Regions from separate parts of the Homo sapiens genome. Here region 1 is linked to region 2. Evidence: fine-mapped expression QTL. A gene starts in region 2. The other region holds a variant in brackets. All regions are shown on one strand. Distances are between the middles of the regions. Region 1 overlaps C5orf34-AS1 (C5orf34 antisense RNA 1). Region 2 holds the start of C5orf34 (chromosome 5 open reading frame 34).

The links.
Region 1: its variant is fine-mapped to the expression of C5orf34 in whole blood (INTERVAL, PIP 0.96).

The regions. Positions count from the first base shown.
Region 1 is chr5:43,484,094-43,486,593 of GRCh38, forward strand. The region is part of intron 1 of C5orf34-AS1 (C5orf34 antisense RNA 1); the gene reads left to right. It also overlaps a transcript of TMEM267 not described here. Among named protein-coding and RNA genes, the nearest start is that of C5orf34-AS1, 1.4 kb to the left of the region's middle. RefSeq lists enhancers at 1-646, 1-101. The variant C/G (reference allele first, on the strand shown) is at 1,388.
Region 2 is chr5:43,514,015-43,516,514 of GRCh38, forward strand. It overlaps C5orf34 (chromosome 5 open reading frame 34), which reads right to left and starts at 1,134. Exons shown (of 13, transcript NM_198566.4): 1 at 792-1,134. LOC124900190 (a long non-coding RNA gene) reads left to right here. Exons shown (of 3, transcript XR_007058764.1): 2 at 179-2,500. RefSeq lists an enhancer at 742-901.

The DNA.
Region 1 (2,500 bases), 30 kb before region 2:
GTCTTTTTAGTTTAGTTTTGTCAAACCTGAGGATTCGTTTTTCAGTTTAGCCGGAGCTGTGCCGCAAACGTAGCTGCCGACATCCCCACGACGCACCCAAGTGGTGGCCCGGAAGCTGGGGATAGAAAAGTGGCCTCCCCGAATGCCAGGCACACAGGCCTTACTACCAGAAGCTTGAGCTGGGAGCCTCGGCCGTCGCATCTCTAAGGTGCAGCGATACGGCCAACTTCCTTCCGCGAAGCCCTCAGGGTGGGCAACGGAGCTTTTCACCAGACTGAGGGACCGGGCGACCTGGCCGACCGGCGGCTCCTCACCGCCCCCTTGGGGATTTCTTGATAATTCTTTGCCACGATGCGGGCGGATGTTGTGGAGCTACTGTTTGTAGATCGCAGTAGCGTGACAGCACTTAATCATGACTACTAAATCCTCAGAAGTCGAAAAAGCAAGTCCATACAGAATAGTTTGACCCTAATTAAATTGCGCTTACAAGATACAGTTTGTTTACTGGGACTTTGGCTAGGTCCCATCCCGTCTCTGCCTCAGAGTGGTGGTTGCTCTTAGCACCAAGGAAATACCAGCTTGACATTTGACTCTAGGAAGCACAGGCCCAAAAGAAGAGGCCCAAGGAGGGACATTCTTCTTTCCCTTTCCTACCTACAGTTTCTCAAACCAAGTGTCAGATGGAAAGCAAGGGGTGGTATCATCGTAATTATACAGTTGACCATAGAAAATAAATTTCAATCTCAAAGTAAACTCCTAGGCCACCCCCAGAATCTTAGAGTTTCTCAATCATAGAACTCATTTCTTGTCACAGTCTTGGTTCTTAGCCAATGTAAAACACCCAACTGACAGGGAAAATTAAACACCTTTTAACTCCCACACACCTTAAATGAGAATTTAAAGTATCTTTCAGCAAATGTATTTATAATTTTGAGTGCTTTTAGCCATGTTAAGGACAAATTTTCTCCTTCTGAATGCAGTAATAATTTGGCATTACCCTTTTGGCAGTGTGGTACAAAGTCTTATAATCTAGGCTTTATGGAGCTATTGAGGAACAACATAGATGGCTTCATGCAAACCCAAACAATGTAATAGTAGTTCTTTTCTCTGTAGTCGGTCTACTGCCTGTAGATGTTTATTCCTTTTTTTTTTTTTTTTTTTTTTGAGACAGGGTCTCCCTCTGTCACCCAGGCTGGAGTGCAGTGGTGCAATCATAGCTCACTGCAGCCTTGACCTCCTGGGCTCAAGGGATTCTCCGGCCTCAGCCTCTGGAGTAGCTGGGACCACAGGCACATGCCATCGTGCAGGTAATTAAGTTTTTTGTAGAGATGGGCATCTCGCTATGTTGCCCAGGCTGGTGTTAAAGTCCTGGGCTCAAGTGTTCCCC[C/G]CTCCTTGGCTTCTCAAAGTGTTGGGATTACAGGCGTGAGCCACTGTGCCCAGCTTACTGATTCATTTATACAAACAGAGTGCTCTCAGTGTGCTACAGAATGACTATGGAGCTCAAGTTCTAGTGGAGGGTGTGAGCCACAAGGAAACAAGCTAGACAGATTGTAATAAGTACTATAAAGGAAGTAAATAGGGTGATGTAATAGACTTGGGAGATGCTAACTTTAGTCAGGTAGTAAGGAAGGCCCTTTTGAGGAAATGGTACTTGTTTGAGAATTGAAATGTGAAGGAATCCAGTGTCAGAGGAACTAAAAAAAAAAAAAGGCATTGTGCCCCTTTAACTTAGTGACATTATCATTCCTGATCTACACTCTTCTCCCCATTTTTCTCGTTTTCTCTGTTACTGCTTCCCGTTTATTTGAAGAGCCAGGTCTTTTATAGAAATCAGAAAATTAGAACATTTCTGGTTGTGTTTGGTGTAATCTTGACGTCATTATAGATATTTGGTTTTGTTCTTTCTTAATAGACAAGCTTATAATAAATAGCACTTTTGGTGAGCTCATTTCTGTTAAACACTTTGCAGCATAAATCTTTTCCTGTGTTCAAAAGAAAGTATCTGGTTCATGAGACAGTTTAGATACAGTCTTTGCCAAAGTGCCTGATTTTTAGTTTACAATGTTGCTTGTCTCCGTTTTTGTTTTTGAGATGTAGTTCTTGTCTCATAGCTCTACTGAAAAATACTTGGAGTAAAGGGACCAAATAGCAAGTGAACAAATGCACAATTCTGCATATTAAAAAAAAAGAGGCTGGGTGCAGTGGCTCACACCTGTAATTCCAGCATTTTGGGAAACGGAGGCAGGAGGATAGCTTGAAGCCAGGAGTTCAAGACCAGCCTGGGCAAGATAGGGAGATTCCTGTCTCTACAAAAAAAATTTTTAAAAATTAGCCAGGCATGGTGGTACATGTCTGTGGTTCCAGCTACTCAGAAGGCTGAGGTGGGAAGATCCCTTGAGCCCACAAGTTCAAGGCTGCAGTGAGCTATGATTGCACCACTGCATTGCAGCCTGGGTGACAAAGCAAGACCGTATCTCAAACAGTAAAAACAAACAAAATG
Region 2 (2,500 bases):
TTTGAATGATGAAAAATAAGTAAACTGCTCCTCTTGAATTTGCAATTTGAATTAATGGTGTCTCATTGTTAGCAGCCAATATTCTAAAACTTGACTTTCCACTCCATGCCCCTGTAACAAGTCCTGTTGATTTTCTGTCTTTGGAACCTGACTCTCTCTACCTCTTTCTCTTTTTCAGGCCATAGACTCTCCAACTCCTGCAACTGTCTGGAATTTCTTCTCTCTCCAATCCATCTCTAGTATTGATGACATAGGTAACTTTCCACAAGTCACACCATACCAAGTGCTTTACATCACCTGTTTACGTACTTATCAAATGGCAATATAGATTACAGATATATATATAAACACACACGTATATATCGGGTATGTCTACTTGGTATTTTAGGGGAAAAAACGGGTGCTGATACATAGATGGAAGACATTTTCTGATTCCAATTTGGGAAAAATAGTCTATCTTTGGTCAGGTCTTTTTTTTAATAGCTTTACTGAGGCGGTTTTCTAATTTTAAATAATCAAGCATACACAACAAACAGTGTAATGACTAAGGTTCTTGGCATACCATAGGAAACCATAACCCGGCTCCAACCCACACTGCCATTCTCATCTCTACAGTCTCATTCCCGCTTGCGTTCTCATCACCCAGCACATTACGTCAGGGTATGTTTAACACTCAAAAATCCACAAGTCTGTTCTTGACATGAATGAGAATCTCATTTCTTTCAAAATGCTATAGTCTCTAGTTACAGAAGGAGCCTGATCAAAACAACCACCAAAAGTCTTCCACTCACAGCAGTTCGGAGCCGAAAAGTTGCGGAAATGAGGCCCAGCAACGGTCCCTGGCTTTGATTTGCCAAAATGCTCTGGAAGCCGCAGCGTCGGCGCCTGCCCACCACTGCTTCTTCAGGGGTTTCTTCAGTTTGACAAATTACCAGCGAGTGATATTTCTTGGTGAAAGAAAAAAATCACAACCCTAGAGGAATAAGGTGGCAGGGAGAGTGTTTTGGCCAAGATGCCCGCCACGAAACAGGAAAGCGGAGACAGCGCCAACTGTAACCACTAAGAGAAAGCGCAAACCGCACAAGACCAGTTCAAAACCAGCGCCCTCAGGGAGCCGCTTCAGAGCTCCGCAACAGGGAAGACAGGAAGTCCCGCCCCTCCACAACAGGAAGGGCCGGAAGTCCCGCCCCTCCACTCCGGAGGCTGCCCTCGCTGCGTTCCCTACGAAGGGCGGAGCAGGAATTGGTGTAGGAAGGGGACGGGTGTTTCCTTGTTCGGAATGGGGTTGGCTCCTCTTTGATTTTTTACTTCTGGTGACCCACGCAAAAGCAGTCCCGACCTGGTTGTATTAATAATAAAGGCTGTAAGGATCAGCCTTTTGAACGGTCCAGCCGAGAACTAACCACAGAGCGCGTTTTAGTGGAGTGGTACTTATTTTTAAATAAGGTAAAAAACGATTATACTTCAGTAAAGCTGTTTAGAAAAAAAAAAACTTGGCCAAAGATGGAGAACTCTTCCTAATTTGGTATCAGAAAATAGGTCGTCTATGTATCTGCACCTTTTTTCCTTATAAAGTGGCAAATAAATGTGTCTGCTATATTTATTGCCACTAAACAAGTGTTTATGGAACACTCACTGTGTGTTTAGGCATAGTGGGGATAAAGCAGGGAAGGTGGCCCAGTTCTTTGCGGGTGAGGATCAGAGCTAGAGATTAACTGGAAAGAAAGAATAAACAATCATTTATTACAGTTGTGAGTGTTTCTAAGATAAAATACAGAGGTTTGTGAGAGCATAGAGAGGCATACCTTGTTTTATTGTGCATTTTATTGTGCTTTGCAGATACTGAGTTTACTACAAATGGAAGGTTTGAGGCAACCTTGATGGAGCAAGTGTATGGGTGCCATGTTTTTCCAACATCATGTGCTCACTTTGTGTCTCTGACATATTTTGGTAATTCCCACAATATTTCAAACTTTTTCATTATTTTTGTATCTGTTAGAGTGATCTGTGTGATCACTGATCTTTGATGTCACTACTGTAATTGTTTTGGGGGACCACAGATCATGCTCATACATTATAAAATGGCGAACTGAATCTGTTACAGGTAGTTAGGCATGAGCAAGGCAGGAGAGGGCTCTCCCCTGCCACCCACCCACTAGAAATGTTGGGTGATGGTTCAGCAATTATCACATGGCCTCTCTAAAAATGAAAATTTGGCAGCGCCAGGGAAAGGCCATTTCCTGATGGCCCACACCTGTTAACATCAAAATGTTAATTGAATGCAGGCCCCAGAGAGAAGCAACTTCCTGGGCATGCCGGTTAAGAGACAAAAGTGATGAAGTATGATTTTTCTGATACACTCCACCGGAAAAAGGAAGAAAGCCTCAGATGGGCATGTGTATAAATCCATAAAATCACTGTGTGTGCTCACTTCCCAAGGGTAAAGAGGGCTCTGAGCATGCAGGGAGCCCATCCTAAGATCATGGTTAAATGCGGCACT